2 linked regions of the Homo sapiens genome follow. The main gene of each other region encodes a partner of the protein of the gene in region 2 in a complex. Each region holds a gene or a part of one and is shown on either strand. Other genes may lie near its edges.

Region 1 (5,404 bases), on a different chromosome or scaffold from region 2:
GTCGTCATTTTTTACTAGGTGACTAATGGGGGTAGTAGTAGCTGGAGGAGGCACCAGTCTAGAGTCAACATGTTTTGTGAGATGAATTCACTTCTGGCATAGAGGGCCCTCATGTTAAACATTAACCAAGTGAAATGTTTCACAAAAGGTATTTCAGAACAGGGGTCATGGGAAAGCTGAGGGGCAGCTGAGTGGGCTGTCTGGATCCCCCAAGGCTGGCCTGAGAGATGGAGGCAGAAAGCAGGGGGCAGGGGGCTGACGGCAGCAAGGGGAGCGGGAGACGGCTGCAGATGGGCTGACGCGCGATCCCACTTCTCACAGGGCGAGAGAGGCTGGCTGAGGATCGTGACCAGCACCTATAAGGATGGGAAGGGCGCCAGATACAACCTTGCCATCGAGGAGCACTGTACATTTGGGGACCCCATCGTTTAAGGCCATGTCACTAGAAGCGCAGTTTAAGAAAAGGCATGGTGACCCATGACCAGAGGGGATCCTATGGTTATGTGTGCCAGGCTGGCTGGCAGGAACTGGGGTGGCTATCAATATTGGATGGCGAGGACAGCGTGGCACTGGCTGCGAGTGTTCCTGAGAGTTGAAAGTGGGATGACTTATGACACTTGCACAGCATGGCTCTGCCTCACAATGATGCAGTCAGCCACCTGGTGAAGAAGTGACCTGCGACACAGGAAACGATGGGACCTCAGTCTTCTTCAGCAGAGGACTTGATATTTTGTATTTGGCAACTGTGGGCAATAATATGGCATTTAAGAGGTGAAAGAGTTCAGACTTATCACCATTCTTATGTCACTTTAGAATCAAGGGTGGGGGAGGGAGGGAGGGAGTTGGCAGTTTCAAATCGCCCAAGTGATGAATAAAGTATCTGGCTCTGCACGAGACTGAGGCTGCCCGTGCCTTATTCGCACACAAAAACAATGTCACATCAGGACTTAATCCAACCCAGCAGAAAGGCTTTTTAAAAATTTACTTATTACTTGTTCTTAGCAAATTAAGACAATTACAATAAAACATCAGCTAACTGGGTTCTTGTGAGAAAACTGAGGTCAGCTTGGAAAGGAGTTCCCCGAGTGGAGTTCCCAGCGGCCCGCGGCTGACGGCCAGATCTGTCCTGAGGGGTCGTGGGAGCCCAGCGCCTGCCTTGAGGGAAATGAACACTGAAAACAGGATTTGGGAGCAGTATTGGATTGACAGCAGAGAAGGGACTGTTTGTAAGGGCAGTTTCTCACTGAAGCTGCTACCATTTTCCTTTGTAAAGAAGTCATCCACCTCCTCCCAGCGGTGCCCATTTTCAAGACGCTGCCCGAGCCTCTTAAAACAGCTTCTTGAAAGGGTTTTTCCACAACGGGTTCTGGAATGTTCTGCTTCAGCTCTGGAGGATGCTCTAAATTAGTTCACCATGATGAAGTTAGATTTGCAGTGAGCTTTAACGAGGAAAACAGTGACTGTGTTAGAAACAGGAAGTAGAACATGACATTTTCTTTCTTTTTTTTTTTTTTTTTTGAGATGCAGTTTTGCTCTTGTTGCCCAGGATAGAGTGCAATGGCGCGATCTTGGCTCACTGCAACCTCTGCCTCCCAGGTTAAGCGATTCTCCTGCCTCAGCCTCCCGAGTAGCTAGGATTACAGGCACGTGCCACCATGCCCAGCTAATGCTGTATTTTTAGTAGAGATGGGGTTTCTCCATGTTGGTCGGGCTGGTCTTGAACTCCCAACCTCAGGTGATCCACCCACCTTGGCCTCCCAAAGTGCTGGGATTACAGGCATGAGCCACCGCGCCCAGCTGACATTTTCTATTGTAGTAAAGGGCTAGGCAGTCGGCCTCACCTATAAACTCCGTCACAGGGTCATGCTCGCCTTCCGTTTTGATGGTACCTGCGATGCTGTCATTCTCCAGGATGGGGAGGAAAAGTTGCACGAAGTCAGAGGTATAAGGAGGAGCAATGACGTCCAGCACCTGCGTGGGGGAGCACAGGGTGACTTCTTCCGCACACTAGTGCGGGGCATCCACCGACATCCGGGTGAAATGGCCATCAGTTTGGAAAAAATCCCTCCCCACCCCCACCGGCCGGTGACACCACCCATCTCCAACATTCAGATGCCCAGGGTGGTAATGGAGGTAAAGTGTGTCATACAGCTGCTGCAGGCAGAAGGTGCTTTTTGGTAAACGAGTATCTGTCATTGTCATCACTACATCAGAAAGCACAGTTCTCAGTTAGGTACAAAATGAACTAAATTAAGCCAAAAAGGGCAGTGCTAGTGTAAACAGTATGAAACATGAAACCAACGGTGCATTGCTGACCTCAGTGACAAAATAGCGAATGAGTGAAATGTCAGTGTCCAGCTTCTCCAGACACTTTCGGATGTAACTGACAACAGGAAGTACATAACCTCGACTCAGCAGGTGAACCATCCTGTCCAGCAGTGTCTTCTTCAACTCAAGCTACAGAAGAAGGGGGACAGGGAGCTGGTTAGAGAGGGTCCTCCTCAGCCCTCTGGCAAGCCCCACGGGCACTGCTCACCTGCTCCATCACGTCCAGCTGGGAGTGCTCAGTCTCAAAAAGCTTAACAAGCAGCTGCAGGACCTGGGGGTGCAGGAGCTGGTGGCAGGTGCTGATCTACAAACAGGCCAGAGGGAGCTTCGCTGAGCAGTGTGGTCACGCTCAGCACACAGAGAAACTGGGCACTGTCACAGCCACCAAAGAGCTTATCACTGTGGAAGAAGGTCCTGACACCTAAGCCAGGGCCATCAGCTTCCAGTAACACTTGACTGAGGTTAAGAAATTTCTGCAGTCAATGAAGCTAGGTCCTTAAGAGGAAAATCCTCAGGACAGAAATAACTATTTTTGAGAAGAGTATCCTCTAAACTCACTGAATAGATGCAATGTTAATGCCAACGTAAACAGCATGAGACAGACACTGTGTAGGCTGTGAACAGCTCTCCGCCCTCTTACCTCATCCAGCAACGCCAGGTGGACAGGGGTATGGTCAGTCTGCAGCTGAAAGTACCTTGGTTCTGATACAGTCCAATCCACCCACTTCAGCACACCCATTGCTACCACTGGAAACCTACAGTTAAGGCAGAATGCTTCCTTTAAAAAACAATTTAAAACACAAAATATGCTAGAAAAGCATTAAAGGAAAGTTAAAAACAAACTCAAATGACTCCATCATTCACCCTTCAATACGCCCCCCAACCCTTTTTTTTTTTTTTTTTTGAGACAGGGTCTCACTCTGTCTTCCAGGCTGGAGTACAATGACACAATCATGGCTCACTGCAGCCTCCCGAGTACCTGGGACTACAGGTGAGTGCCACCATGTCTAGCTAATTTTTTGTAGAGAGAGGGTCCACCATGTTGCTCAGACTGGTCTCAAACTCCTGGGCTCAAACTATTTTCTTGCCTTGGCCTCCCAGATTGCTGGGATTCCAGGCCAGAGCCACTGTGCCTGGCGTAAGCTCTGCTTATTAGTAAATAGTGTGAATGGATCAGCAGCCACTCAACATGCGGTGCAAGAAGCAGAGTTCAATTCTCTGCTCACTTTAAACCACTTATCGAAAGGAAAAGATCATTAATGAGTGATACTCAGTGAGTTTGGTGGACTGGGTTGAAGTTTACCTTTATTTAGCAAACTCTTTCTTCATCCCTAGTATAAATTATTAGGGGAAAGACATGCCTAAGAGGACACACTATTTCTAGGACACGTCTATTTATATGATTGGCATAATCACAAATCATTTCTATGTAAGCAATACTTTGTGGGCATAACTTTACCTATAAATAGACCCTTCAAATCAATTTTTGTTAACTCTGGCTATCTTTTACTTAGCCTAATTTGTACTCAACAGACTTCTGGCAAATAAACATCTGAAAATTACTCATGCTGCTAAAGCTGTTTAAAGTTCCCTACATACTGTTTAAAAATGAAAAAATAAATAAAATGAACAAGTATCGCTGAAGCTTTTGTTATTTGAGCTTTCAATATGAAAACTCAAACGACCTCCTCCCCAAAGGACTGATTTAAGAACTGAGTTTCGTTTTGCTTACCTAATACACTGATAAAGTGTGCTCAATTCTGCCACTAGTTCAGAGGCCCCTTTGTTCTCGTTGCAACACAAATTGTGAACGGTTTCGACAGCTTTTGACGTTGACTTCAGCTCATCTTTATTGATGCTCACTCGCTTGTTCTGAAAACACACACACAAGCTGGTGAGCCTGACAGGGCAGATATCCCTGCTGTCGGGGTGTTCTGGTGTCGGCCACTTCTTGCAAAGCACTTTCCCTATTTCTACTTAAGTTGGGAGTCAATTCAGCTGTCAAACTTCACAGTCACACAGTGTACAGAAACTGAAAAGCAATGAGACTAGTGTTTGTCCATGTCTTACGGAAATCAGTTTCATTTCTTTAGTCACATTTCAATTTACGGTTTGCAGAGCATTGGAGACATTACGCACATTTTCTGGAGACGTTTAGTGCTTTCTCTACGCAGAAACACAAGAAAACACATGCCTGATACTAGGGAGGGTCAAGATTTCTTGCAGCCAAAATTCCAAAATAATATCAAAGCAGAGGAGGATATTTGTCTCCTAAAAAATCCACAAATTCCCAGAACCGATGGTACCTTCTTCCAGGTCTCAACCACGCTTGCTGCGTACGCCAAGATGTGGATGTATTTGTGCTTGTGGTCCTGGTTGATCCGAGCCCCTGGTTTAAAGAGTGACTGCATGAACAGGTCCAGGAAGGCTGGAACGCGGATCTGAGGAGAAGCATATGCCCAGTTCGGGATGGCAGGCGTGAGGGCACTGCTCACCCACCTCCCCTCAGGGTTCCCTACACAGCAGGGGCCCAACAGGCTCCAGGCAGAGAGTGTGACTGAGGAAGGACCAGGACAATGATGGATTTGCATTCACAGCCTTCAGACAATCAGACAAGCACAGACTTTCCAAAGTCACCTTACCAGCTGACATTGGGGATTCTTGAGAAGCAACTTACAAGTTCAACCGGAGGAGGGTCCATGCTTGTGAACATCTTGAACAGGACGGTGATGTCAGCAGGGTTCAGGGCTCCTTTGGACAGCATGGCCCCGAGAGCCTGGCAGGCCCTGGGGTAGGAGGCAGCTGTGCCCAAGGCTAGTGTGATCTGACTGGCGTCATGACCTCTTGATGAGAAAAACCATAGACCCCGTTACTAACAAGGCAGCTTCTTTTTTCTGTTCTTTTTTACACATATAATACTTTGCATTGTTGGGATCTGTTTTTCTGTCATTCACGAGTATACTGACTGACCCACAAAAATAACATTTACAACACTGGAAAAGTGATTCCAATACAGCTTGCTGGCTCTATAAGAAAGGAGTCACACACTTTAAATACTTAGGAACACTCTATTGGT
Region 2 (5,248 bases):
TTGATTCCCTGCCGCTGCCCTGAGCTGACACTGCAGACGCGCCCGGGCACTGGCGAGGACTCCTGTTTTGTCCACAGATGCGGAGGTGGTGGAGAAGCCGGCCAAGGAGGAAACGGTGGTGGAGAACGCCACCCCGGACTACGCAGCCGGCCTGGTGTCCACGCAGGTAGGGCTCGGGGCTGCACCCCATGTCTGGCACCACTGCGGGTGCCCCTTTTGTTCCGATTGTGGCCACTAGTGTGCTCTGTCGGAGAATATATATATGTATGTACATATGTGTGCAGTCTGTATTTATGTATATATACGTATATGTACATGAGAGGCAGTGTGGGCCGTGCCCTGACATGGGCATCTGACTCAGGCTTGGAGCGGGAACCTGCCCCACGCTTGCTGGAGGGGCTGCCAGGGGAGTCCTCCTCAACCCTGTGCCTCAGTGTCCCGTCAGGCAGGGCTGGTGGGACCTAAGCCTTGCACGTGGCCGTGAATGGGTGCAGGACAGGCCTGTGGGGGTGCTGGGTGGTCAGAGGCCTCAGTGTCCCGGAGACCAGGCCCTGCCTGCGGGTGGGAGGCAGCCACGGGGCGCGGCAGGTGCACAGAGGCTGCAGTGGGTCGTCTGAGGCCAGGGCCTGGAGGAGGCCACACTGTGGGGTCACTTCAGGATAATAAGCTCCTTTCTTCCCGCCGCTGCGTGTTCTGTGTTTCTTAACATGAGCATCTTCCTTTATATCAACGCTTCGTGGTAAGAAAAAGCATCGCTCCTTCTGTGCTCAAGATGGGCTGTTTGGGCTCCTCAACCCCTCCCCTCTCCTACACAGGAGCGGCTCAGTCCCCAACTCTGCTGGGGCGCCAGGGGCCAGGGGTCCCGTTGTCTAGCCCAGGGAGCTCGGGAGAGTGGCCCCCGCCTTCCTGCTCTAGCTCGGGGGGCCACAGCCTGTGGCAGTGGAGCTCCGGGTCGGGCCATGTGTTAGCACATGCCGGAAGCATGGCCTCTTCTGGAAGGAACCTTAAACTCTGTGTTCCAGAAACTTGGGTCCCTGAACAATGAGCCTGCGCTGCCCTCCACGAGCTACCTTCCCTCCACGCCCAGCGTGGTTCCCGCCTCCTCCTACATCCCCAGCTCCGAGACGCCCCCAGGTGAGTCTGCTGGCCCCAGCCTGGAACCAGCCAAGCTGCCTGCCAGGACATGACCTTGCCCACGGGCGCTGCCAGGGCTGCGGTTCTCACTCCTGCATCTCTGTTGTCCCCCTTCTGCCTCAGCCAGAATCTGCTGGGGGCAGATGCCCCGCTGTTCAGCTTGAGCTCCAAGACATAAACCAGCTGCTTTGCCCCACCCTGCCCGTCCTGGGCACAGACAGGCAGCGGCCCCAGGGGACACGGCAGGAAGGGGATTGGGTTCGAAAGGGTTTTCTGCCAGGTGACCCAGCTCTTGTTGCTGGGTAGGCGGGAGGGGAGCTGAGAGCCATCCCCTCCCAGACGGAGGGCACTGCCAGGCTCACAGCACCTCAGGCCAGGTCCTGGGCCCAAGGGGCTTGAGGATACAGCCTTCCTGTCTTCCCAGCAGTGCCTACGGTATGGGGACCTGCTGCAGGCCAGCAGCTGGCCAGAGTCCAGACATCTTATCTGCGAGTCTGGAAAGGCCTGAGACCACTGGCCTTGTTCCTCTGGCTGGGGCTTCTGGGGCCTGTGCCTTGGCTGGGGGCCACAGGGAGTTCTTGTCAGAGGGTAGCAGGACAGAGAAGGGGAGCTGAGCCTGTCACCTCCAGGAGCACTAGGGTTTGGGAACAGGGTGGGGGTCCAGCCCCCTCACCAGGCCCCGGTCTACTTGCAGCCCCATCTTCCCGGGAAGCCAGCCGCCCACCAGAGGAGCCCAGCGCCCCGAGCCCCACGTTGCCAGCGCAGTTCAAGCAGCGGGCGCCCATGTACAACAGCGGCCTGAGCCCTGCCACACCCACGCCTGCGGCGCCCACCTCGCCTCTGACACCCACCACACCTCCGGCTGTCGCCCCTACCACTCAGACACCCCCGGTTGCCATGGTGGCCCCGCAGACCCAGGCCCCTGCTCAGCAGCAGCCTAAGAAGAACCTGTCCCTCACGGTAGGTGTACACTGGTAGGGCCCACAGGCCACCAGGTAGGTGGTACGGCCCTGGCCACCTCCCCTAGCGTGGGGGTGCCACGGTGCCTGCAGGGGGATGCAGGAGGTGGTCCTGGCGGGGCCCTGGCACCCACACCCCTCTCCCCGCTGTAGAGAGAGCAGATGTTCGCTGCCCAGGAGATGTTCAAGACGGCCAACAAAGTCACGCGGCCCGAGAAGGCCCTCATCCTGGGCTTCATGGCCGGCTCCCGAGGTATGTTCATAAGGCAGGGCCTGGGGGTGCACCGGGCCGGGTTGGGGGCGGGTGCCCCCAGACACCCACCCAGCAGCTCCTGCTCTCTGCAGAGAACCCGTGCCAGGAGCAGGGGGACGTGATCCAGATCAAGCTGAGCGAGCACACGGAGGACCTGCCCAAGGCGGACGGCCAGGGTAGCACAACCATGCTGGTGGACACAGTGTTTGAGATGAACTATGCCACGGGCCAGTGGACGCGCTTCAAGAAGTACAAGCCCATGACCAATGTGTCCTAGAACCACCTGCCTCACAGCTGGCCGTCACTTGTGGGGGTCCACGGGACGATGGCTTTGCCAGCTTAAAGTAACCGGATGGCGGACACCTGGCCCCCGAGGTCCCCCGGCCGCCGCCCTGCTGCTGACCCAGCCTGTTTTAAGTTCTGGATGCATTTCTCTGGGGTATTTGGGGCTTATTTTTAAAATTTTAATATGGGTTCTTTTTTGTGTGATTTAAGACACTTTTTGGACTCAACGTTACATTTTTGAATGTAGTAAGTAAATTAACCAAAAAAGTTACAACTTCCTAATTTTAGTGACAGCTCTGCCTGTTAGACTCTTACTTTTTAAAATCTTTTCTATTTTCCCTCGCTGGGGCAGTGCCCTCCTACCCCCAGGGTTGAGGGGACCAAGGTGGCACGGTGGTACTGGGGGTGCGGCAGGGACACCCGACCACACCAGAGCGTGGGAGACGGTGGGCCTTGTCCCCTGCCTGTGCCTGCCTGGGAGTTTTGTATTCATCTTTTGTATAGTTGTGGACATTTAAGACAGTCTTTGGGTACCTATTTTCATTGTAAAACTATCTGAACCATTAAAGTCGAGCTTTTCTAAAGAAAGCCACCATAGCTGTGTTTGGGGCCAGCTTGTCCTCCCTGCTCCGGGGACCCAGTCCCTCCCTAGGCGGCCATCAGGACGGGGTGGGCCAGGGCTGGGGGCTTCCTAGGACACCCTGGCCCACAGGGTGGGGAACAGGTAGGATCAGCCCTCGGGGTACTCCCTTGACTTACTTGGCTGTGGGCCTGGGGACCACCCGGCTCAGCCGACTGCAGGGCTGGGGGACAGCAGTGCTTCCTTCTCTCTAGACCATTTCACCCTTAATGGGAATTTGGGAAGCAAATTATTTCTGAAAGAAGAAGAAAGCATTTTTCCAAAGTCAGTCAGTTATGCCTGCTATTTCCAGTATTTGTTGTTATACTTCCCAAGGTGGCACTGCCTCTCCCCAGCGGGTCAGGTCAAAGGCAAAATGACACAGTCAGGACAGGGAGCCCCACCCATCGGAGGCATCAGTGCCACACCCGATGCTTTGCAATTCAAAGTAACTGGAAAAAAAATCAAACAATCCCATATAAAATAAGTTAAGAAAAAAGCCTTTAAAATGTTTTTAATACAAAAATACTCATACACAATTTTCCAAACACAGCTTTCCATTTTAAATGCTATTTTCCCCCAACTGGCAAGTCTCAACTCTCTATTTCAGTATATCCCTCCCCCCAAAAAGTGAATTTCAAGTTTTTAAGTCTAACTATCAAACCTGGTGACAGCACCCAGTATTCCTAAAAGGAATCTGACCTTACATTGTATGAAGTTTAGACACCAATAGGCACATTTAAGTTTGTATTTAATTTCTGACGGGGCATTTCACACCTCAACAGGGTATGGTGAGGCTGTGACACCCCGTGGACACAGCATTTTACTCTACTGACTAACAAACAGTCATCAACTACACTCATAGGATCAAGATATTTGGCAACTGACAGTCATTTGCATTAACTTGAATTATAAAACAGGTTTAATTCTGGAAAATAAGGTAGTCCTGGAAGATGGGCACTGCACACGCCGGGGTTTAGATGTCAAGACAGACAAACACTGCGAAGGGGACCCAGCCAGCCATGGACGGGTGTCGCCGGAAGAAAGGCCGGCCTGAGGACGGACAGCTGGGTTCTCACTTCAGGTGCCTGAAGAGTTTCCCCCACAGGTGACCACATTTTAAGCTGCCCATTCGGACACATCCCCCTGTGGGCGCACACGGGTGGGTATGGGTTTAGGTGCAGATGCTGGTTTCGGATGCCAAGGAATCCTGAGGGATTGGGGCGGTTTTTGTGTTTTGCTTCACATTAATGATGGAGGATTGAAGCTGATGTTCAGGAAGTCACCACGTCCTCAGAACAAAGCTGGGCAGGGCCGAGAGCCAGCCACACCCACGGTCACAGCTGGGGGCGTGGTCAGCCCCAGTGGCGAGAAACCCTGCAAGCTCAGGGCCGCTACCCCAAAGCCTGGCTCCACTGAGTTATCAACGGGTATTGTAGAGACATTCAAAGTTAGTGTTACTTGCTCATTAGTTTAACAGTTTTTGGAAAGGGGGAGAAACATATTTAAAATGTTTGCATTATTTCCTTCAGAAAAATCATAAAATTTGGAAGTATTATCAAAGCGATTAAAAATCACAAGATTTCACTACTGTCCAACACAAAAATAAGTTAATATCTGCTCCCCAAAGTGCACTGCAAAGCCGATTCTGCTGTTTTGACGTAAGCATTGGTAGTCCCTTACCTGCCGGAAGGGATCTTTTGGGCAAGTGACAGCGGGGCCCTGGGGCCTTCGACTCTAAGGTGTGTGTGGGGACACTGCCCGGCCTGTCCCTAGAACAACCTTCCAAGTTAGGGCATCATAAGGAGCATAAATCTATGAGCCGATCCAGTATTTTCTTAGGACACTTTGGGAGAAGTTAGAGTCTGAACTGGAAAGCACTACTCCCACCCTGTCTTAACCGGCGAGTGCCCCTCAGAGGCCACGGCCGCGCGAGCAAGTCAGTGGCTACACAGCTCGTTTCCCCTGGGTCCTCTGTGTAGTTAACTTTGCTGGGGA

What was found. The genes of interacting proteins can lie anywhere in the genome.
Region 1: the proteins of NELFA (region 2) and NELFCD are in contact, whole or in part, in a crystal structure (PDB 5L3X), measured with the Homo sapiens proteins. Residues at the interface, in NP_005654.4 of Homo sapiens: Leu23, Trp24, Ala25, Leu54, Leu58, Leu61, His62, Arg65, Pro88, Trp89, Met92, Val93, Ile96, Leu97, Phe100, Gly104, Ser105, Leu106, Leu108, Leu110, Asn116, Val117, Asp119, Ile120, Leu121, Glu123, Leu124, Arg125, Lys127, Val128; in XP_047296144.1 of Homo sapiens: Cys204, Gln205, Gln206, Leu207, Glu208, Phe210, Ser211, Leu214, Arg215, Leu218, Ala219, Ile221, Leu222, Asp223, Gly225, Glu226, Cys241, His242, Gly243, Glu244, His245, Thr246, Tyr247, Leu248, Phe249, Ala252, Met253, Ser255, Val256, Leu257.

What each region holds. Positions count from the first base shown.
Region 1 is NC_000020.11:58,990,677-58,996,080, reverse strand, and holds the end of NELFCD (negative elongation factor C/D), read right to left. Parts: intron 5,172-5,404; coding exon 5,006-5,171; intron 4,770-5,005; coding exon 4,635-4,769; intron 4,201-4,634; coding exon 4,061-4,200; intron 3,084-4,060; coding exon 2,969-3,083; intron 2,633-2,968; coding exon 2,537-2,632; intron 2,458-2,536; coding exon 2,317-2,457; intron 1,972-2,316; coding exon 1,842-1,971; intron 1,440-1,841; coding exon 1,405-1,439; 3' UTR 968-1,404; downstream 1-967. Other genes in the region: CTSZ (cathepsin Z preproprotein), read left to right, coding at 322-432. UniProt on the Homo sapiens protein: Essential component of the NELF complex, a complex that negatively regulates the elongation of transcription by RNA polymerase II.
Region 2 is NC_000004.12:1,980,694-1,985,941, reverse strand, and holds the end of NELFA (negative elongation factor A), read left to right. Parts: intron 1-77; coding exon 78-166; intron 167-1,022; coding exon 1,023-1,134; intron 1,135-1,828; coding exon 1,829-2,094; intron 2,095-2,246; coding exon 2,247-2,346; intron 2,347-2,438; coding exon 2,439-2,623; 3' UTR 2,624-3,219; downstream 3,220-5,248. UniProt on the Homo sapiens protein: Essential component of the NELF complex, a complex that negatively regulates the elongation of transcription by RNA polymerase II.